Regions from separate parts of the Homo sapiens genome. Here all the other regions are reported to be linked to region 1. Evidence: microRNA targets listed by miRTarBase, many of them from high-throughput screens and not tested one by one. Region 1 holds a microRNA gene; each other region holds the end of a gene's coding sequence.
What was found. The annotated mature microRNA hsa-miR-548t-3p reads AAAAACCACAAUUACUUUUGCACCA and lies in region 1 at 3,347-3,371, opposite strand. An mRNA with a match to its seed (bases 2 to 7 or 8) in the 3' UTR can be bound and repressed. Matches are read on the target gene's strand: a 7mer-m8 pairs with bases 2 to 8, a 7mer-A1 pairs with bases 2 to 7 and ends in A, and an 8mer does both.

Region 1 (8,132 bases):
GGGAGGCTGAGGTAGGAGGACTGCTTGAGCCCAAGAGTTTGAGACCAGCCTGAGCAACACAGTGAGTCCCCCTCTTCAAGAAAAAAAAAAAAGCCGCCGGGCATGGTGGTGTGCACCTGCAGTCCTAGCTTCTCAGGAGGCTGAGGTGGGAGGATTGTTTGAGCCCGGGAGGTCAAGGCTGCAATGAGCTATGGATCATGCCACTGCACTCCAGCCTTGGCAACAGAGGGAGACAAAAAAATAAAAATAAAGAGAAGAAGAATCCTACGGATTGCCAGAATTGTGTGTGTTAATTTTAGATCTGTGGTTCTCAGCATGGGGCGATTTTGCTCCCCAGGGCACATTTGACACTGCCTGGAGACATTTTGGTGGTCACTGCTGGGGAAACAGGAGAGGGCACTAAAGCATCTAGAGGGTAGAGGCCAGGGATGCTGCGACACAGCCTGCAATGCACAAGACGGCTCCCACAACAATGAATTATCTGCTCCAAATGTCGGCAGGGCTGAGGTTGAGAAACGTTACTCTAGAGGCCAGGAATTTTGGCCAAGACAATTAAAATTCCAAAAGTCAACTTCCCATTGTCGTCACAGAAAACATCTTGACGGAGAAGACAAAAGCTAATTAGTTGGAACTCCTTCAAGTTCTCCTTCCTGACATGGAAATCGACCCTCCCAAACTTTCCTCTTACCCATTTGTGGGAACAGGGTGTCCCTTGTTTTTGCCAAGACCCCCACCTCCGGATCTCCTTCTCACTGACCTTCCTAGGAACTTCGCTCCATCCACCGCCCATTCCTCCCCCAGCATCTATGCTCCTCCTCCCCACACCTCCTGCTACCTGGCTCACAGTTAGGTTAACTTAAAGTAGTCCATTTTCCCATCTTAAAAACATCTCTCACCCAGAGAATAAAATAAGTACTTGTGAGTCCACACTGATATAAATAAATGAGAGGATAGATAAACAAATACCTGGAGAAGAAACAAATTTCCCTTACAGAAGAATTCCATGTAATAAAGGCAGAAGGCATGGGAGAATAGAAAATCACCAGGAGAACATTACAGTAATAATAGCTGCAGGCAGGGTCCACTGAGGAATGTTAAGTTCATGGGCAAACTTTAAGGGGAAACAGGATACCTGCATAGGCTCAACACATCCCTCCAAAAACATTTATTAGCCAGGTGAGGTGGCATGCACCTGTAATGCCTGCTACTCTGAAGGCTGAGGCATGAGCATCACTTGAGCTCAGGAGTTCAAGGCCAGCCTGGGAAACATAACAAGACCCCATCTCCAAAAAATATTAAAAAGCACACCAGGGCCGGGGGCGGTGGCTCACACCTGTAATCCCAGCACTTTGGGAGGCTGAGGCGTGCAGATCACGAGGTCGGTGAAACCCCGTCTCTACTAAAAAAATACAAAAAAATTAGCCGGATGTAGTGGCGGGCGCCTGTAGTCCCAGCTACTCGGGAGGCTGAGGCAGGAGAATGGCGTGAACCCAGGAGGTGGAGCTTGCAGTGAGCCGAGATTGTGCCACTGAACTCCAGCCTGGGCGACAGAGCGAGACTCTGTCTCAAAAAAACAAGCAGGCCAGGTAAAGTGGCTCACGCCTATAATCCCAGCACTTAGGAGGCCGAGGTGGGTAGACAGCTTGAGCCCAGGAGTTCAAGACCAGCATGGGCAACATAGTGAGACTCTATCTCTAAAAATAAGAATAACTTTTAAAATAATAAAAATACATTAATTGGCCGGGCACGGTGGCTCACACCTGTATTCCCAGCATTTTGGGAGGCCAAGGCGGGTGGATCACGAGGTCAGGAGATCGCGACCATCCTGGCTAACATGGTGAAACCCCTTCTCTACTAAAAATACAAAAAAATTAGTTGGGCATGGTGGTGCGCACCTGTAGTCCCAGCTACTCAGGAGGCTGAGGCAGGAGAATGGCATGAACCTGAGAGGCAGAGCTTGCAGTGAGCCGAGATCAGGCCACTGCACTCCAGCCTGGGCTACAGAGCAAGACTCCGTCAAAAAAAAAAAAATACCACATTAATTATGGTGCTGGTTTTAGCATATGTCCACAAATTCTTTGAAACCCCTCCCTGTAGGAGGCAGGGCCTAATCTCCCTCCCCTGAGTGACTCACTTCTAATGAATAGACGGTAAGCTTGTCCAACCCGTGGCCCAGGACAGCTTTGAATGTGGCCCAACACAAATTCATAAACTTTCTTAAAACATTATGATATTTATGCACAGACCTTTTTTTTTTTTTTTCTTTTGAGACAGAGTTTCCCTCTGTCACCCAGGCTGGAGTGCAGTGGTGCAATCTCGGCTTACTGCAAACTCCTCCTCCTGGATTCACACCATTCTCCTGCCTCAGCCTCCTGAGTAGCTGGGACTACAGGCGCCCACCACCACGCCCGGCTAATTTTTTCTATTTTTAGTAGAGATGGGGTTTCACTGTGTTAGCCAGGATGGTCTCGATCTCCTGACCTCGTGACCCACCCGCCTCGGCCTCCCAAAGTGTTGGGATTACAGGTGTGAGCCACCGCACCCGGTCCTTTTTTTTTTTTTTTTTTTTTTTTTTTTTTTTAGCTCAACAGCTGTCATAGTGTTAATGATGTATTTTATGTGTTGCCCAAGACAATTCTTCTTCCAATGTGTCCCAGGGCAGCCAAAAGATTGGACACCCCTGGAACAGAGTATGGAAAGGGAAATTAGCAGCTTACGGTGGGTAACTCTGGTAGACAACGCCTTAACCAAGTGATCAAGGTTAACTTCACCAGTGAGCAATCAGGTAGATATCATGTGCCCCCTAATATTATGTGATGAGAAGGCCATTTCACCTCTGGGGTATTCTTTCCCCAAACCCCAACTGCAGTCTAATGATCAGAAAACATCAGACAAATCCAGATTGAGGGACATCCTACAAAATACTTGACCAGCCCACTTCATAAATGTCAAAGTCATAAAAAAACAAGGAGAGACAGAGAAATTGACATAGATTGAAAGTGACTATTATGATATAATAATTAAGTGCAACATTATATCCTGATTAAATCCTGGAACAGAAAAAGGACATTAGTGGAAAAAACTGGTGAAATCTGAAGAAAGTCGGGAGTTTAGTTAATACAACTGTGCCCATGTTAATTTTTGAGTTTTGATAAATGTATCATAATTAGTACGATATTAACATTGGGGGAAGGTGGATGAAGACTACGGGGGGTTCTCTGGATTTGCAACTCTTCTGTAAATCTAAAGTTAACTTTAGGGGGTATATGATGTCAACCTGATTTAGCTAAAGTTAACTTTAGATTTACAGAATAATTGCAAATCCAGAGAGAGGGAAGATTTAGGTTGGTGCAAAAGTAATTGTGGTTTTTGCCATTGAAAGTAATGGCAAAAACCACAGTTTCTTTTGCACCAACCTAATAAAATAAAAAGTTTAAAAGGAAAAAAATCTCTCAAATGAAGACGTAGGTCCACACAAGGACTTGTATGTGAATGTTCATTGCAACTTTACTCAAAATCATCCAAAACTGGAAGTAACCCAAATGTCCATCAACTGGTAAATGAATAAACAGACTGTGGTATATCCATTCAGGGGAATGCTACTATGCAATAAAAAGGAACAAACTATTGATACATCCAATAATATGGATGAATTTCTTTTTTTTTTTTTTTTACATTTTTTTTTTTTACATTTTTTTTTTAATTTATTTTTTTATTGATAATTCTTGGGTGTTTCTCACAGAGGGGGATTTGGCAGGGTCATGGGACAATAGTGGAGGGAAGGTCAGCAGATAAACAAGTGAACAAAGGTCTCTGGTTTTCCTAGGCAGAGGACCCTGCGGCCTTCCGCAGTGTTTGTGTCCCTGATTACTTGAGATTAGGGATTGGTGATGACTCTTAACGAGCATGCTGCCTTCAAGCATCTGTTTAACAAAGCACATCTTGCACCGCCCTTAATCCATTTAACCCTGAGTGGACACAGCACATGTTTCAGAGAGCACAGGGTTGGGGGTAAGGTCACAGATCAACAGGATCCCAAGGCAGAGGAATTTTTCTTAGTGCAGAACAAAATGAAAAGTCTCCCATGTCTACTTCTTTCTACACAGACACGGCAACCATCCGATTTCTCAATCTTTTCCCCACCTTTCCCGCCTTTCTATTCCACAAAGCCGCCATTGTCATCCTGGCCTGTTCTCAATGAGCTGTTGGGTACACCTCCCAGACGGGGTGGTGGCCGGGCAGAGGGGCTCCTCACTTCCCAGTAGGGGCGGCCGGGCAGAGGTGCCCCTCACCTCCCGGACGGGGCGGCTGGCCGGGCAGGGGGGCTGACCCCCCCCACCTCCCTCCCGGACGGGGAATATGGATGAATTTCAAAAACATTGTGTTGAGCAAAAGAAGTGAGACACAAGAGACTACATCTGTATGACTGCATCTATAGGAAACTTTAAGAAAGGCAAGACTTTAGTGCAAAAGCAGATCAGTGCTTGTTAGGAACAGGAGTGGGGAATGTGGGGGGTAGAGAGAAGTAATTGACAGCTAAAAGTCACAAGGGAAGTTCTAGGGGTGATGAAATGTTCTGTATCTTGATGGGGCAGTGGTTACATGACTACAGTGTGTGTATATATATGTTAAAACTCATCAAGCTGTACACTTAAAGTGAGTTCTATTCTATGTTAGCTATATCACAATATGGCCAGGTGTGGTGGCTCATGCCTGTAATCCCAGCATTTTGGGAGGCCAAAGTGGGCAGATCACTCGAGGTCAGGAGCTTGAAAACAGCCTGGCCGACATGGTGAAACCCCATCTCTACTAAAAATACATAAATTAGCCAAGTGTGGTGGTGTGTGCCTATAATCCTGGCTACTTGGGAGGCTGAGGCAGGAGAATCGCTTGAACCCAGGAGGCGGAGGTTACAGTGAGCTGAGATTGCACAACTGCACTCCAGCCTGGATGACAAAACAAGATTCTGTCTCAAAAAAAAATTATATATATACATATACACACACATATATATATTATATATCACAGTAAAGCTGATTTTTAAAAAATCTCTCAGCCCCTGCTATTGCTTTGTTTTTATCCTCCTGAGCCTCTCTATAGCTATGGCACTTGAATTTCCTTCTTCCTCTTGGTGGCTTTTGTTCTGTCTTATTTCCTGATGCCCTTTCTAGGTCCCTAAACATTAGTGCAAAGAGGGCACCAGAGCAGAGGGGAACAATTCTCTCTACACTCAAGTGGAATCTCTGAGCTGAGGGACCCAGAGAGGTGGAGTAGCCAGCAGGGCCCTGATGACCCGCACCTGAACTCCCACGGGTCTGACGGCTGCTGTCACAAGAGCCTGGGGCCGCTGGTCTGAGTGTGCTGGCGATCCAGCCAGGCTCAGGACGCTGAGGAGGAGGTAACCGAGACCAGGCTTCTCCCTTGTCAACAGGCAGACAGATCCCGGGGATCTTGTTAAAACACAGAGGCTGATTCAGCAAGCTGGGCGGGGGCTGCAGATTCTGCATTTCTAATAAGCTACGGAGTGATACGGTGCTGAGGGTTGGAGGCCCACACTCTGAGCTCAAAACGGAGACCACAGGGATATGCAATGTGTGCAGAGAAGGGGGAGGATGGCACAGGCTGCAGCAGTGGGGCGGGTGCTTGGCTACACTTGGAAAGGAAGTTCTCACAGTGTCTACAGCAGGAACCCAGACAGTTTCTGAGCCATCCTGGGGCTACTACAGGGACTGGGAAAATTGCACCAGTTGGGGAACAAAAAGTAAACAATGGTCTTATTACAATTAGTATGGTCTTTATTGCATGTAGGTGACAGGCCCTTAAAGAAGGTTTCATCCAGACATTCTCCCAGATCCCTCTCCATACTCTCTCAAGAAAGTCACCTGGGCCAGGCGCAGTGGCTGACTCCTGTAATTGCAACACTTTGGGAGGCCGAGGCAGGCGAATCACCTGAGGTCAGGAGTTTGAGACCAGCCTGGCCAACATGGCGAAACCTCGTCTCTACTAAAAATACAAAAATTAGCCAGGCGTGGTGGTGGGTGCCTGTGATCCCAGCTACTTGGGAGGCTGAGGCAGGAGAATCGCTTGAACCTGGGAGGTGGAGGCAGGAGAATCGCTTGAACCTGGGAGGCAGAGGTTGCAGTGAGCCGAGATAGTGCCACTGCACTCCAGCCTGGGCAACAGAACAAGACTCCGTCTCAAAAAAAAAAGCGGCCAGGCACGGTGGTTCACACCTGTAATCCCAGCACTTTGGGAGGCTGAGGTGGGCGGATCACGAGGTCAGGAGATCGAGACCCTCCTGGCTAACACGGTGAAACCCCGTCTCTACTAAAACTACAAAAAAATTTAGCTGGGCGTGGTGGTGGGCACCAGTAGTCCCAGCTACTCGGGAGGCTGAGGCAGGAGAATGGCCAGAACCTGGGAGGCAGAGCTTGCAGTGAGCCGAGATCATGCCACTGCACTCCAGCCTGGGCGGCAGAGTGAGACTCCATCTCAAAAAAAAAAAAAAAAAAAGGAAAGAAAGCCACCTGTTCATTCCTGTGGCTTCACCACGGCTTCCCCAAGGGACTCCCAAATCTGTCCCTGATGCTGCTCCTGCACGCCCCCAGTGTTGCTAACAGCTGGTAGCTATCTCCAGCTCCTTAATTGAGCCTGAAACTCACCATGTCTCAAACATGCCTGCTTCCTCCTGTACTATCTTCATCAGCTGGTGGTTGTACTAGACACTTCTACGACTCTAAATAACCCTTCCATAGCATTGCCTGACAACCAAGACCAAGAGATAGTCACCCCTTGTCACACTCTCTAGTTTCTTTTATAATGGTTATCTCAGCTGCAATTAATTAGGGACAGGATTATTTGTGAATATCCATCTCTCTCACAGGACAATAAAAGGGCAGAGGCCCTCTCTGCTCTGTGGTCTGCTTCCCACTCTGCCCCAGCACCAAGCCGAGAGGCTGGCATGAAATACAAGACATGCAATTACATCGTAAGTCTCCAACTCAATTCTGACACATTAGGAGTCTCTAAACACAAACATTAGGGACCATGTCAGTTTCTGAAATGCTCTTGTTTACTGACATTTAATCATTTTCCCAGGGACGGCTTTCTACAAGATCAGGCTGACCTCTTTGGGGGTTTTATTCTTAGATGATGAAGATATTTTGACACAAGGCCCAAAGGCAACATGCACCTGGTTGTGGCTGGCAGGTGGCTTTGCTTTTTAGATACAGAGCTTGGAGCTTGCCCTGAGTGACAGTAACTTGTAAAGCAAATCTGTTTGGGGCAGAGGCAAAGCAGATCTCATTAGACTCCTAAAGGGACATGTTAGTATAGCTAGAAAGCAATACCTGGTTCCAAAATTCAGAATTTTGCGAGAGCCACTCAATCACCAAGCAAGGCCACTTCAAAAGCCTATGACAACATCCATTAATACTCCAGTCACTCTGGATCAGAATAAAAATGAAAAAGGTGCAAATGAAACTTCTCTCACTGGTCCACACCACCCTCCCTGAACCTTGTATCTGAAAAGATATTTTAGTTCAGAAAAAAAAAGTCTCCAGCGGGGCACAGTGGCTCATGCCTGTAATCCCAACACATTGGGAGGCTGAGGCGGGTGGATCACCTGAGGTCAGGAGTTCGAGACCAGCCTGGCCAACATGGTGAAACCCCATCTCTACTAAAAACACACACACACAAAAAATAGCCAAGAATGGTGGTGCACACCTGTAATCCCAGCTACTTGGGAGGCTGAGGCAGGAGAATCACTTGAACCTGAGAGTGAGCCGAGATCATGTCACTGCACTCCAGCCTGGGTGACAGAGCAAGATTCATCTCAAAAAAAAAAAAAAAAAAAAAAATCTCCTAACTGGCTCAGGTCCCTTTTCAGCTAAATTGGGAAGAAAAGCAGGTGAAGGAAACAAATGGTCCTTAACACAAGAATGCCCAGTTATTATTTTGCAAAAACAGTCAAAGCCCTGTTAATAGCAGGAACATAGTCTTCTCTTAAGGAGCTAGATTGCTTGCTGGATTTGGGGGGGAAGAAAATTAATACTCACTACTGAGGTATTCCAACAGTTGGAATGAAGTAGTTGAAAGAGAGGATCAAGGCAATCATCATCTCCCAGCCCAAC
Region 2 (8,132 bases), not on the chromosome of region 1:
ACTTGACAGACTCCAAGAAAAGACTGTACCCAGCCTGTGATAATCATCAACTTTAAATCTCCACTTTACATAGAATGTGACAAAATTGATTTAGTACTCCAGAATATGAGCCAGATGTAGGTAAAACTCCCCACCTGGTGTGAACTGTGTAACCCACTTTTAAAATCTAAGCAACGTTCTTCTGAAAAGTTATTTGAAAAATCAAATAGATTCTCCTGTTTCTGCAGTAATACAATCCTATATGAAGGCAGAGAGGGATATTAGAACTACTATTCTTTGCTTCCTTCAGATTCTCCTTGGGAAAGGAGAGAGAGAGCAGCAAGGTGGGGGTGAATTCTGAAGGCTGGGAGCTTTGTTTCTGCTCAGTCACTTCCGCTCCCATTAGTCTCTAACCTTGGCCAGCTATTTAAAAAGAACAAAAGAAAACAAAACAAAAAACAAAACAAAACCAGCAGTAGCAGCAGTAATAACAATAACAATAGCCAGAATTTACTGAAGTTCACAATGTGCTGGTTACTGTACTAAGTGATTTACAGCTATTCTTTGCCAACCTGCGCAAGTTACTTAACTTCTCTGTGCTTTAGTTTCTTCATTTGCGAAGTATAGATAATAATAGCATCTAATTACTGTGATAATCAACTGAGTTGATATATGAAAAGTGTTTAGAACAGAGCTTGATACATAGTAAGTACTTAATAAATAATAGTTATATTTTTATCTCATTTAATCTTCGAAGCAAATCTTAAAATGTTGCTACTACTTATTCCTCAATTTACAGATAAGCAAATTGAGACTCAAAGAGTTTAACTGATTTGCTTAAGACCATAGAGCTGGTAAGGGCCAGAATAAGGACTTAAACCTCCAAATGTCCCGCTTTTTAACTTCTACACCATGCTGGCCTTCCCAGTTCAGTACCTAAATCCCAGCCACACCACATAAACTTCTCTGATTAGTGAATCCCTATGTTGAACACATTATGAGCTTTCAAATCTCATTGCCTTTTGCTCACCTTGTTATTCCCTCTATCTGAAATGACTTTCTCAACTTTGTCAAGCAGATTAAATTAAAATTATCCTTCAAGACTGAGTTCAAGTGTCACCTTTTCTATCTCACCTTCCTGCTCCCACTTTCACAGAATTAATTGCTTGTTTGTGTTCCTTTAACACTTATCTCACATATCTTCTTTACAGCACTTATCACATCATCTCATAATTTGTTGATGTCTCTGCTGCTAGATGGTGAACTATGAGAGGGCCAGCCCCTCATACGCAGTAAAAAATGAAATTTATTTAAGATGTCAGACTCTGCTAAGGGCTTCACAAGGATGCACACTCCCTGAATCTTCTCAAAAACCCTAGGACATATGTACCATTGCAGTCCACTTTTTACTGATGAGGAATAGAAAGGTTAAATAACTTGCCCAAAATCACACATGCAGTAGATGCGCAATAAATGATTGTTGTACTGAATTGTGTCTAAGTAAAAATGCTTAAGAAAAATGTTCAAAAATTCCCTTTTTCACAGAAGAAAATGATCTTTTAACTTTTAAATTTTTGGATGAAAAAGAACAAACTCTTTTTTCATCTATTTAGTCAGATTTTTCCCCCTGAAAGCTATGAAAAGGAACAATTAACTTTAGCTAGTTCAAGCTCAAGTGTCAATTCAGCTTTAAAAATTATAATCACTTTTCCTTATATTGTAGGATTATAGTCATCTTCCTTATATTGTGGGATAATGAATGACTTGTTTCCTTATCCCATAATCTTGAATACCCTTATAAGTTAAATGTTACTTTATTGTCTGTCAAAACCACACAAACCAGGAAATGCATTACAGTATCAGTTTTAATATTTGTGTCAATAATCTATTATTTTCCAAACACAGAGAGAAGAAAAAGGAATTGCTTTCTGCCTCCAAGCTGAACTTGGAACCTAGGTCTTTCTGAGCACGATGTTGTCCTACGTCCCCAGAAGGAGCCAAGGAGGCAGCTATGAATGTCAGGTGTGAATAATTCAAAACCCCAAACCACCTGTGGCTTTGAGGCCTTTTTTTTTTTTTTTTTTTCAATTACTCAGAGGGAAACACAGTCTCCTTGATTTCCTCTGGGGACCTTTCAGGGAGCCAGTCCTTGTAATAACTGCCTGTTATGGTGAGAGGAAAACTGGCTTTAAAAGCCTTTTAACCCAAAGGGATTGAGCAGCTAATGGACATCATCCCTTTGGCAAAAAGGGATGATGTAAAACTCCTGCCCCATTTTAAAAACCAGGACTTGTTTATATAATCTTTTCATACAGTTAAAGCTTTTTTGGTTTTAATATATTATTTAGAGCCTGTTACATTGCAGCATAAGGCAAAAACAGTTATCAAAACAACAACAACAACAACAAAAACTTCTCTCTACGTTGCTCCAATTCAAATATGCCTTTAACTTATTTGACTGTTTTGACTGATGGCCAAAAAAGAAATTCCAGTCATTTGCAAATGTTATTTTCATTTTAACCACTATACAGACTAATTATGAATTTTTGCATCAAAACTGAGCAATTCTACCATTTTAATGTGGTGTAAAAAAAGTTTCTGAGGGAATTAGAAAACTCACAGATGCTGACATGCCCACAGTTGACAATAACAACAAAAAATTTCAGCAGTAAACAGTTCTTAGTATATCCTGCAATTTCCATTTAAAACATTTATAAGAGAATATTAACAAACATGAAAATGATATATTTTTGCATAGAAAAATAAACTCACAAGGTTTTAGAACCATAAATAACCCACAATTCTGGTTACCATCTACCTTGATTAATGTCTTTAGCCAGTATTTGAAACATCACCATTTATCATCTTAGCTTCTTTCTTTTCTTTTTAATATGAAATTAATGCAAACTGCTTTTGTTTTAATAATAATAATACAGTCTATGCTACATATGGCATGAAATAATGAAACCCAGTAAATTTATCCAATAGTGAATACACAGAAGTGAAGAGTTTTGGCTCTGTTTGCAACTGTCCTACAGTAATCCCAGGTGCAACCCAACTCATTATGACACAGTTTAGCTGAAAAATGTAATCTGTATGGTTATAAATCAGTTTCATTGTACTTACAATAGAAGTAAATTTTGGAGGCCAAACCAAGTTTTCAGCTGATAGGCGATTAGGGAGTTTTATTGTATTCCAATTAAGGAGCAAAAAAAAAACATTGACGGGGTGGCATGCTTTAATAATAAAAGATATGCACCCTGTTTCACAAGTTACTTGGGAGGGCCCCCGCAAGTCATCGTAAGATGCACACAAATAAGTCATTCCTTTGATTGCATTTTACCCACGCATTTTCATCCTATCTTGCAGGAACATGTGAGTATGTCAGAAAAGACACCTCCATGTCTCTTAAAGCAATTGAAATATCTCTGTTTTGGAAGTGGATAGTTGGGATATGAAGGGAACTTTGGAAGGGAAAATAGATTTTGCTGTTATTATGTAGATAGAATTAACTACATGGGAGCTGGTTCTAAAATACAACACGCTGATTCGTGTAAGTGTGGGTGAAAGGTTCCTGGTGCTTTGAATAGAATGAGGGGGTTCCCTCTCAGTTGAGGGAGTATGTATAATATATACGAGATCCCAAATAACACTGGGCAAAGATAGGTGATAAGGCACTGAAGTGAAAATGGAGAACAGTCCATTTATGGCCATTATGACCAAGTTCTTCTTAGGGAATTTTTACCATATTAACACTCACAACTCATTGCTACTATGTATTTATTGTTTCTTTCCCACTAGATTAAGAAATCTAAATGAGAGACTGTTCTGCTTTGTTTTCCACTATGCACTCAGCACCAAGCCCAGCACCCAGCACATATTTGTTGAAAAAGTAAATAAATGAACAAACAATTCAGGTAGCATCCATGGAAGTTGAGGCAAATGGATAAGTGGCCATATTTATGTGTTAACAATCATAAATCAGTTAACTTCTATAGACAATCCTGGTGAGAAATCCAACCAGCTGATATCTGCAAAAGATAATTCAGTCAATAGATTATCCTATCTACAAATAATTTTTTCATCTAATCACTGTGGTCAATTTTGTGTTATTTAAATGGGGTCTCTGTGGAGAAATGGGCAAGTTACTCACCTCTTTCTGCCTTGGTTAATACCTGCATAGGATTCCACAGTCACAGACTGAATGCCTAGCTTCAGCCAGGCATCTCACAGATAAATCTATTACATGCAAAATGAACCAGATGAAATAGTACAGACGTATCCACGCAAACATATCACCACTATTATGAAAAACAATTTAAAGGCCGTTCAGCTCAGATGTGTGCTCAGTCCAAGAGGGAGACACATTATTATTGATAATCAGTCTCACAGGGAAGTTGGACACCCCCTGCCCCGCTACAGTGGGGATGTATTTTTATGGATTAAAGATTAATTACATTAAATACTGAATTTTGGAATGAGTGCTAAAATAGATAATGTGATTTGGTCATTAAGACACTGAAGCAGGTTTTTATTTTGTATGATTACTACTGTTACCAGTTGAGTTACAAATGGCATTGATTCACTGAGGATGTGTCTTGTCAACTGCTTCCTGCTTGACCTGCAAATGCCAAGTTAGTCAGGAGTAGGCTTAAATAAAAGTCACTGCAGTTCAGCCTGACTTACTGATTACTGGGGCTGGTTTCTTACCAAAACTGTGGGAATCGGTTATTCCAAATAGCTAGGTGGAGTCAGGCAGCTTCACGTGGCCGTTGCTCTTGACTCCTCAGTCCCCAACTCTTAACCCATATCTGTTTTCTTGTCTATGCAATGGTGAACCTGTTCTCTCTGGCCTTAAGATTATTGCTGAATTTTTTACTGATTGCTGGTGATATTTGAACCTCTAAGCAGAGTTAGTTATTATCATCATTGCAATTACGTTTCTACTATAAATTTTTTTGAGTTACAATCACAATGTTATCAGAACATCTTTTGATAACATTTCCTTTATTTTAGATAATGATTTCAGTACCAAGGAGACTTTATTGCTAGATCCAACTCACTGTTGTGCATTAAATTTTGTCTCAGATCTAATCAACTTTGGTGTAAAGTAAAAATGAGGTCAGAATGCTCACTAATTCATGGCTTGAGCTGTCCTTATAAGAGCAAAACTGAATAGTTGCATATATCATTGAAACATTTCATTGATTTATTTTCCTTATTTATATTGATATTCTCTTTACAGAAGTACTATAGCAATATGGAATTCTGTGTTATTAGATTCCTAATCTTAATTATCAAATACCAAAAAAAAATAAACTTCACAAAAACCAACCAATAAACAAAACAACAGAAAGCAAACAAAAATAATAACTTTTTCTAGTTTTGTCATAATGTTAGTGTAAACCATTCTTCTTACAAGTTGTATATTTAGAACCCCAAATTTCTATGGTACTATGCTCCAAATTAAAGTGTGATGTTTATATTAAAATTCTGAGCCAATTAACTAAGCAGGTACACATCTCTAAATACTACTGGCATTTAAGAATAATAGAGGGATGATTATAATAAACTACCAAATAATGCTTTTACAGATAATATTATGTCAGTTTATCAGCATTATGTTGATTATCATTCATACATTTCCAGTCTGGAATGTAGTAGCTACAAGAATCAAAAAGCAAAACCATAATAAAGCTAGTCTTCCTAGTTTGTGCTTGCCTCCCAAATTAAAAAAAAAGTTGTTATGTGCCAAAAATGTAAAACTTATTTCAAGAAAATTAACAGGCTACACGGGTAAATTTTGGCAAATGCAACTTTATATTGAAGTTCACACATCTGTATCTTAAAGAATGAGACTCACAGACTCTAATGTATTTCTAAAATACCAGAAATCATAATATAAGCTTTCACAAGTTAAAACTGAAATAATTTAAATTACCAATACACTGAATGTGCAGAAAGTATAAACAAGACTGTGCCTTCAGTAGAATAAATGCTTCACAAATTGTGCAGGATGTCATACTAAGGCTGTGGTCTCCCCTTGACAGCTGACTTAAAATATAAACATACATCAACTGCCTGCTTCTTAGAACAGTTTAGAAAGGGTAGCACACCGTAGAAGAAAATCTCATTATTTCAGTGATGTGCACTTTAAGTTTCAAACCATGTGAGAAAAAAGGAAAAAGTAATAAATGATCTTCCATGCACTTTTAGATGCATGACCATGACCAGTTACTGATTTGATTTCCCTTGGCTATTTGCTCCAGTGCTAAATAAGATGAAGGATACTAGATAACCCTTTAAGGCAACATGTATTTATTCTGCATTATTAGAACTGCTCAGTTGTGACAGGCTGGTACCATTAATGTTGCCTCCCAGACCAATATCTAGCATTTGTAAAATATAAATGAATTGGAAAAACTTTATACCAAATCAACAAAAACCACATAATACAGTTCAATGCTAGCAATCTTACTAGTAGATGAGGAAAGTGGTATTTAGAAATAGCAATGTATTAATACAAAAAAAGTAAACTCTAATTGGAACCAATATACTGCTTTGGAATGCTCCCCAGAACTTACAAGGCGGTTTTTAAAGTGTGATATTCCAATAATTCATTGGCACGTCTTTAGTGGATTACAGTACTTTAAGTCCCCAAATATTTTAGTCTTTGCAAAACAATAGTAGTATGAAATGTTTTAAAGTCTTCAAACTTCTAAAATTAGTTTTTATCAACACATTTACCTCATGTCAACTTAATTTATTAAGATGTCCAATGCTAATTGTTTTTTGATGTTTTTTCATATGTAGTGACATACAGAGCATTTAGCACTGATACTTAGCACCTGCTACTTTCATTATCTAGTTTTTGACCACATAAAGAAACTTAGGGCAGTGGTTCAGTCCCTTCTTAATTACAAACCTTTGCTGGCAGTCAGCAGGATCACTCTGAGATTTAAAATAGGATTATAGGTGAACTATTGCAAAGACTGCAGAATGTTGCCCAAATCCTTAAAACTGCTGATTCCATTCTTGAATTTCTTCTCAAAATATGGCTATGGGCCACAATTGCTCAGCAGAGAAGGTTAGTTTTCACAAGGCTAAAGATTTACAGATGCTCCCTCATATAACACAGTAAGGTTCCCTTGGTAACCTGGATTTTCTGCAGTAAAGAAGGGTTGTGCTGAAACAGCGCCTCAGCTCCCTGTTTGAGAAAATGCAGACAAAAGGATTGATTCCTGCTTGGGCAAAACTCATCCAGACAGCAGCTGTTAGAAATCCCCCTGGTACTACAGGCCCTCTTGCAAAAACTCTCCAATAACAGGCCACCAGGTAGGGGCCCCACAAGGTTAGAAACAGAAAAGTCATTATATAGAACATTCTGCTGATTCTTTTCTCCATTTTGAACTCGTCTAAGACCAATAGCCTTCTTCTGCCTGTGGTGTTTGCATTTTGCCTGATGCCCAGCAAGGTGGGTGGTGTGGGACCCCTTCCAAATCCTGCTAGCCAATTGGCAGCTGCCTGGCCACTGGCTCCAGGACCATGAAAAGTCCAGTTCTGGCTGACTGCTGCTACAAACTGGACTGGCTTCATTTTTCTTCGATCGTGGACGAAAAATATCAGCTTGAGGTAGACAAGCTGTGTGGCTAGGAGGATGAGAGCAAGAAGCAGCATAAATCCTAAGGAATCATTAGCCCTGAAGGAGCGGTGTTGGAAGGTGCATTGATCTTCCTCCCTAATGAATGAGTAAGTGCCCACGTCTAAAACCGGGGGAAATGCCATGGCCACAGACAGAGTCCACACCATACAGATCACAGCCAGACACGTCCAAAAGGTCAGCCTCTTTGTATAGAAGCGGTGATGGGCGATAGCTAAATATCTGGTGACACTGATGCAGAAGAGCATGAAAGCAGTGTGGAAACAGGACAAAACCCCCAGAAAGGCAATCACTTTGCAAGTCAGAGTCCCATAAGTCCAGGTAGAACCATTTTTGACAGAGTTGAACACAAATGGGAAACAAATTGCAGATCTGAGGATATCTGAACAGCAAAGATCCAACAGGAAGTAGTAAGGTGCTCTATGCAAGGTCTTATCTTTCACTAGCAAAATGGAGATCAGGAGGTTGCCCACCACGCTGACTCCTATTATGA
Region 3 (8,132 bases), not on the chromosome of region 1:
AGTGAGTGAGTTCTCACAAGATCTGATAGTTTTATAAGGGGTTTTTCCCCCACTTCGCTCTGCACTTCTCCTTGCTGCTGCCATGTGAAGAAGAACATATTTGCTTCCCCCTCCTCCATGATCGTAAGTTTCCTGAGACGTCCCCGCCATGCTGAACTGTGAGTCAATTAAACCTCTTTTCCTTTATAAATTACCTAGTCTCGGATATGTCTTTATTAGTAGCGTGAGAACGGACTAATACGGCAAGCTAGCACAAAAATCAATAGATAAAGAACAGAATGCTTGGTAAAAGGACTGGAAAAACTGGCCCACAACATGGAGAAAATTAAAACTAGAACCCTACCTTACACTATGTGAAAAGGTAGACTCCAGATCGATTAGAGACCTAGGTATGAATGGTAAAAATATAAAGTTAATGAAAATCAATGTAGCAAAATATGTTTGGGACCTCATAAACACAACTATGAGGTAAAATGGGATATATTATCTAAGGAAGGGAAGGTTTAGGTGGATCAGATGGCTGCTGCCATAATACAGTGTAAAGGACAAGGAATTCTAGGACTGTGAGTTGCGGTGGTTGCTTCTAGCAGAGATGGATACATAAAGAAAGATAATTTAGGCTTGAGTCTGAAATCCTCAGCTCAAAAATTTTAGACTGAATTCTCAATCTAAAAACCAGAAAAAGCCCCATGTTTTTGCTAACAACATATTTTCTCTCTTTCTAGTTATAATGCTGAAATAATTGAAAACCATGGTCATACTTAATCTTGCTGCTTGCCAAATTATATTAATACCCTGAGTTAAACTGACATCCTCATTAGGCCTCTTATGTCAAACTTAGAGTATTGACCAAGAAACAGTAGGACCTTGATTTGGAATGGGGAAGGGGATTTGGAGGACTCATAATATCCTAAACTAGGGAGAACAATAGTCCAGGTTTCAGAAGTGAAAGTCCTGTGTCCCAGGAAACCCCTCAGTCCCAGGAAAACTGGGATAGTTGACATGTTCTCCTTTGCTAATCAAAGCAGGATCTCTTCCCGTCTAAAGAAGTTGTTACTGCCTTGCTAGAAGATCCTGTAATGACCTCACCTGAGGTAATAATTACCTTGTAAAGAGAAACCAATTGTAAAGGGAGGCCTACGCTCCTCCTCCATTATTCACATTATTTCCGTACACCCCAAATCAGATTCCAGCATGAGAAGGGCTGTGGTGGCTAGTAATTTAAAAGGCAAATCCAGAAGGAGGAGACTTACGCCAAAAAAATTCTAGACTCTGCTCACATATATTGGCAAAAGCCCAGAGAAAAATGTGTGGGATTCTCAGAACGTTACACTCACAAGGAGAACTGTAATTTTGGATAAGGCAGAAATGATGATAGGGTACACTTGCCACAGATTCTGGATTCTGTGCGCTGCCTTGAGCAGCTGGGGGTGATTCTACTTGTTGGTTCAGTTAGTTGAGTGAAACATGAACTTAATAAGGGTCCACATTAAATGAAATTGAGAATGCAAACATTCCTTAAATAATATAAAGCCATTCAAATATTTACAAAGATAGGAATGTTGGAGTGGAATTGTTGTGTGCAATATGACTGTCCTAATCTATTGATCTCCTAAGTCTCCTTGGAGGACCTATCAGTGACCCTCCTTTCACTAAGGCCTTGAGAGAAATAACACTGGTGAGGGGAGTACCAACATCCATGAAAAGCATTTTAATGATACTTCTCTTTAAGCTAGGAAGGCTTGGGAAAATGTTATGGTTAAAAGGCTTTCCTGATTTCAATGGAGAAATCAGACTCTTGGGTTTGGTACAGGCTTAATAGCATTTAGTAGCAATTAACAACTGGAGACAAGGTGAAAACAGTGATTGTAATAGGAGGAGGTCCAGTGTAATCAAGAGTTCAGCCCACAGAAACCTTGGTTGTGGATAACACGGGGCCTCCTGGCCTGAAATGCTGTTCAAAAAATTAATGAGGCAGCATACATACTAACCAAGAAAAATTGATACCATTGTATAAAATTGATACAGCCATGCCAGTACATACCAGCTATATCCCAGCCTGGCCTAGGACCAAATACATTAGCAACAACATACGCCCCACTTGATATATATAACAATAGCAGAAAAGCCTGACTGGAGCCACCAAGATACAGTGTCACCAAATTGCCACAAACAGATATGAATGAAAGACCCCTAAAGATGCAGAACTCTGTAATTATATCATAAATGTTTCCAAAATCTTTTTTGAGGCTCCCATTTGCTAAGATAACAATGCACTGCAGAAAGGAAAAACTATTAGGCCTTTTGGAGGTCATCTGGGAACAGCTCTGAACAAATATAAATTTCTCGGGTCTCTGAAACCACTGTGGTCTATAGAACAAAGTATATGCTATAGGAATAAACCCATCCCCCACTTATTTTTCCAGTAAAGAGTTATAATTTATTTCTTCATCCTCTGTGGCAATATACCCACATTGGATCCCTGATCCATAAAAAGAGGGTTATTCTCTCAGGAAGTATGAAGAGATTTGCAGAGATGAGTCCCACCATCAAAAGCTTTGAAAGCAGCAGGAGTGTGATTCTTATCACATCTTGCTTTAGCATGATCTTTGGCATATGTAGGAGGAGACAGATGGGTCTCTAAGAATGACTTCACAGGCTGGGCTCAGTGGCTCACACCCGTAATCCCAGCACTTTGGGAGGCTGAGATGGGCAGATCACTTGAGGCCAGGATTCGAGACCAGCCTGGCCAACATGGCGAAAAACCATCTCTACTAAAAATACAAAAATTAGCCAGGCGTGGTGGCATACACCTGTAATCCCATCTACTTGGGAGGCTGAGGCATGAGAATCACTTGAATCCGGGAGGCAGAGTTTGCTTTGAGCTGAAATTGGGCCACTGCACTCCACCCTGAGTGACAGAGCGAGAGAGCAAGACTCCGTCTCAAAAAAATAGAATGGCTGCACATATTCCGAAACTTAAGCAGATGGTGATTCCAACTGCAGCTGCTGTCATATAAGTTCTTTTTTCTTGGAGCAAATCAGAAAGTAGCTGGCTACTGATTTGGTCAATGCTTTTTTGTTTTTCCTTTATTCCAGTAAGTAAAGACCACTTGAAGCATTTTCTTTATCTCAGTAAGCAGCAATGTAGATTGTCTTTTTCCAACATTACATTAACTTTCTATGTCAGAATATCAGTCTCGATATCAGACCTTTGATCAGCTTACCACTATACAGGGCAGCATGCTGTATGCCTCCAGGTGATATTCTGATTGGACTTGGAGAATGGAGTCATGTTTCCTGGATGCCTAGTAAGATGTGTCATCCCAGAGGGTGAACGATAAATCCCATGAAAGCACAGAGCCTGCAGCCAAGTTTTGTAGAAGTCCAGTGTCTGGTACATGCTGGGATTTCCCCTTCATTGTGAGGAACAAATTGTGTACTTTGTTCCTTCTATAACTAAGGAGAACTCCCAGGGTTTGGTGGGTGATATGGTTTGGCTGTGCCCCTATCCAGATCTCACCTTGAATAGTAATAATCCCCATGTGTCAAGGACAGGACCAGGTGGAGATAATTGAATCATGGGGGTGGTTTACCCCATACTTCTCGTGGTAGTGAATAAGTGTCACGAGATCTGGTGGCTTCATAAAGGGGAGTTCCCCTACACAAGATCTCTTGCCTGCCCCTATGTAACATATCCCTATGCTCTTCCTTCGTCTTCTGCTGTGATTGTGAGGCCTCCCTAGCCATGTGGAACTGTGAGTCCATTAAACCTCTTTCCTTTATAAACTACCCAGTCTCGGGTATGTCTTTATTAGCAGCATAAGAATGAGCTAATACAGTGGGCTTACTTAAATTCTGTGTACCCTGCTCAAATTCATTCGGGGGTTGACCCAAATGCATCTAGTTTTGACTGGGATCAGAAAGAGAGGTCTCTCTAGCTGGTCCAGGCTATGGTGAAATTAGTTCCACCATGTGGACCTTATGAGGGAAAGCCAATGGGCTCAGAGTTTCTGTGGCAAATCAGGATTATGTATAAAACCAGGAAGTGTGAGCAACACTGTGCCCTCTTCAGACAATAACTATTCTTTTGACTTACTACTGGGCTACTTGAGATAAAAGCAAGTGAAAAAAACCTGTTCAAAAGGGTTCCATGAAGGCTGCAGACAGACACCATCAGAACCTTCTCAGGTTCTGAGAGGGGATGGATGGCATGTAAGGAGTTATATGTGAACGCTCAAGTTCACAGGCAATGTATGTTTGATTTAATAAGGAATGTTTTAGAGGTCCCTGTGTTGTGGTCTGCCAACTCATCTGGCCTACTCAATTCACTATGCAGGTGTCCTCAGCTCTTAGCCTAACACATAATAGACCAGTAAGGAATGAAAAGCAAAGAACATACTTGACGATATGCTTCATTTACTTCAGCAAACTTTAAAAAGACACTGTAACTTTTATAAATGAGCACATTTTCCAAATAACCATTTAAGAATATAATAAACAGAATATCCAGATTCTTAAGTTACAAGCAATAGAGACTGATTCTGATTTCCGACAACAAAAGGGAAGATGCTGGGTCATTCAAAGGAAATGCCAAACAGCTGAGCATTCAGTAGGTCAGAAATGAGGGTGGCACTAGAGGTTTAAGCAGCAAGAGCTCACAGCCATCTCTCCAGGAGGCTGCCAGAGGACAACTTGATTCCTATCACTTTCTCTTCCCAAATCACACAGGGAAGGGGCAGTTTCCCAAAATAAGCTGTGTGTGTAGGGGGAGGGGGTTGGGGAATGACGGACTTTTATTATGTGCTCATATCAGGCTGTGCAAACAACCAGCAGACTCCTATACATACAAAGTTGAGTTTTGAATTATACATGTACTTTTTTTTTCTATAAAACCTACACGTCCCCATAATACTATCTGCATTAGTTTTCCTGATAGGAAAAAAAGTATTGCAGAATGCTCAAATTAGACTTATTTATAAAAAAGTAGGTTCTGAAAAATCTCAGAAATAGCTCCAGAAGCAGTAGAGTTCATAACCTAGAATTTATTGCCTTTTCTTTACACCCATCTTTCTGTAGCTACTTTTGCTCATGTAATCAGGAAAAACACCTCTATAAGGTAGGTTGATGGCACATATTGATTCATTTGGATGGAGTTACATCTGTTGAAGGCCTAAAACTTGTAAATGCGAATTATACTTATTGATAGCTTTGTGGAGACTGTGGGGGAAAAAGATTCCTATACTTTGTTGTTTTTAGTGCTGGCAAACATTAAGAAGTGATTCCTTGGCAATGTAAGTCCTATTTCTTCCCTTTGCATATAGGCAAAGTGTCAGGCTCCAGCCTGAGTTCCAGCACAACCAAGGCTAGGATGGAAACATGAATGGCAAGCTGGAGGACCTGGCGGGGCAGGCCTACAGCGAGCCATGGGTTGAAGATCTGAGTTGTGCCCTGAGAGGACACTCATTGTGACCTAAGAAGAAAGAGGCAGTACAAAGTGGACCCAGTTCTAACACCTCCTTGGGATAGGGCCTCCTGCTCCATCATGTCCTCTCTGTAGCCCAAGGACACGTCTGCATCCACGGCACAGAGGGTAAAACCAGATGGTAGTTTCATCAGAAGTTCTGTAGGCTCCCCAGCACAAGCAGCACTGTCTGACATCTAACAGGATGTGTTCCTAAATCCCAGCACCAAGCTTTGGCATCTTGAGAGGACCCAGTAGGAGAATGGAATGCCTCCCGGGAAAGGGCAGCAGTAGCTGACCACAGAAACACGGAAAGCTGCAGAGGCTGCTCAAGACATCTCTTAGCACATGAGACTCGCAGAAATACTTGGGGAGGGATGGAGACCTGGTAATGAAAAGGCTTGGCAAGAGCTACTTAAATAGCGGTTTTTAATCATTAAAATAAACTCTCATTTTGAAAAGCCTGGTGAAGCCTGTGGAGCTTGGAATTTTCAGAGGAGATGGCAGTAACATCATCGGACTGTAGAATTAGATTTTTTTTTTCCCAATAAGGTAATGATGCAGATATCCACACTGGTCCCCTCAACAGTCTCTTGCCCTTTATAGTAATGCATACTGGCACACAGGCAAAGGTTGGATTGAAACAGGCGAATACTTTGTAGACAAGGAACCATGTGTTTATCTTTTCTGGATAAGAATTAAACTAATACTGGTATCAGGATTGCTAGTATCATGAACTGATATAAACAGCCAGAACACATAGCATTGTGTGTCATCTTTTAACTCGTGGGACTTCATGTCTATGAGTCCTTTGCCACTGCTATTAGGATCTAGTTTTACTAAAACACTCGAAATAGGAGTTTAAAGTAAGAAATGAAGTAAACGGGCTGGGCGCGGTGGCTCACACCTGTAATCCCAGCACTTTGGAAGGCCGAGGCAGGCAGATCACGAGGTTAAGAGATTGAGACCATCCTAGCCAACATGATGAAACCCTGTCTCTACTAAAAATATAACAATTAGCTGGGCGTGGTGGCGCACGCCTGTAGTCCCAGCTACTTGGGAGGCTGAGGCAGGAGAATCGCTTGAACCTGGGAAGCTGAGGATGCAGTGAGCCGAGATCGCACCGTCTCAAAAAAGGAAGTAAACATGTCCTTCCTGTTCTCATTTTAAACTTGATTTAGATTTCCAATAATGAAAGACAAGTGGGTGTGTCACATGTGTGCTAGCAATGTGAAACAAATGCTATTCATATTTCTCAATTCATAATTGCAGTTTGATTTTTGATGTTAGTTATGGGCTTTGGATTCCTCTTCAATCAAATCAGCTTCACAAGTTAAATGGATTGTTTTTATTAATTTACAATGAAATAGTTTTTGAATGACTTCACACAAAAACCTAGAGATAACATCACAATTGCAATGTTATAAAGTTTAAAGGCCTATTCATTTCACTGTCAGTTGAAATTCGTTACCAGGTGAAAATTCTGGAGCTGGGTTTTGCACTGAGGATGCTACACAGCCACTAGCCTTTTTAATTTGGTCTTATTAACAGAAATACTGACTTAGTGAAATTACAGGCATAGGCCTCTTAATCGCTTTTTATGAGTCTGAACTTTTGCTTTCAATACCAAATAGTATCTGAAAAACATGCTCACTTTTGTGCTTCTTGAGAAATTCTAAGAATTGGCCCAGATTCATGTGATAGTCATTCCTTAATCCATAGTCACCATGAGCCTCAAGGAGTAACTCTTCAAAAGAATGGAAAAGGCGCAGGTCCTCACCATTTCCTTCTGTCTCCACGCTTTCAGCATGCTTACAGGAAATGTGCTTCCAATTGGGGTACCTAATTGTGTGCCAGAACTCCTCACAGTGCTCTTTGAAACCCTCCACACAGATTATACCAGGCTTTCCTGTCATGCAAAATCCAGTCACATCTAACCTTTTCCCAACATCCAAAATCTTTTTCCTTAGGTCCTGCTGATATATATGGTGACTGTAGATCCACATTCGGAGGAATGTGTTCTTGACTGGCTTTGCTTGTGTAGATGGTTCATATACAAGCTTTCTGTTCAGGAAATAAGATGCACTGTTGTCCTGTAGCCACTGGATTGCTGCACATACACAGAGCTCACCTGGATCAAAAGTCCCTATGTAAGAAGTGAGACCTTTGTTGAGAAGTAGCTGCTGATGTCTGTCAAGTTCAGATGACCGTCCAAACAGCTGCAATGCTACATAGGGGTAGCTGTGAGGCATGGTCACTTGCAAATCAATTTTCACCTTAAAATGAAAATCAAATAGATTTAAATACCATAACATCACATAAGCTAGTTTATCAATAGCAACTGCATGATTTTGAGAAATGTTATTGCTACTATTAAATGTACCAGGTACTTTACATACATGATTGCTTCCTTTTATGCATTATTTCAATATTTATTGAACAACTACGTGTGCCAGGTGCCCTTGTGCTGGGATAAAAAAGTGAATAAACCAGACACTATTTTTGCCCTTCATGAAGTCCAGGGCCTAGTGAAGGAGACACACATTAAACAAATAATTACATATAGCAAGTATTTAATTTCAATTGTGAAAAGCATTACCATGGAAAAGTGGAGGGTTCCATTGAAGTGTGTAACCAGCGGGACAGAATCCAGTCTGGAGAACCAGAA

Region 2: miRTarBase lists GPR85 as a target of hsa-miR-548t-3p. Seed matches in the 3' UTR shown: 7mer-m8 at 6,421-6,427.
Region 3: miRTarBase lists RWDD2A as a target of hsa-miR-548t-3p. Seed matches in the 3' UTR shown: 8mer at 5,595-5,602 and 7mer-A1 at 4,891-4,897.

The regions. Positions count from the first base shown.
Region 1 is chr17:67,466,782-67,474,913 of GRCh38, reverse strand. MIR548AA2 (microRNA 548aa-2) reads right to left here and starts at 3,425; the gene lies at 3,329-3,425. The region is part of intron 1 of PITPNC1 (phosphatidylinositol transfer protein cytoplasmic 1); the gene reads right to left. It overlaps MIR548D2 (microRNA 548d-2), which reads left to right and starts at 3,329; the gene lies at 3,329-3,425.
Region 2 is chr7:113,076,505-113,084,636 of GRCh38, forward strand. GPR85 (G protein-coupled receptor 85) reads right to left here. Exons shown (of 3, transcript NM_001146267.2): 3 at 5,781-8,132. The coding sequence ends at 7,105. Among named protein-coding and RNA genes, the nearest start is that of GPR85, 6.3 kb to the right of the region's middle.
Region 3 is chr6:83,195,203-83,203,334 of GRCh38, reverse strand. It overlaps RWDD2A (RWD domain containing 2A), which reads right to left. Exons shown (of 3, transcript NM_033411.5): 3 at 4,400-7,740. The coding sequence ends at 7,063. Among named protein-coding and RNA genes, the nearest start is that of RWDD2A, 5.9 kb to the right of the region's middle.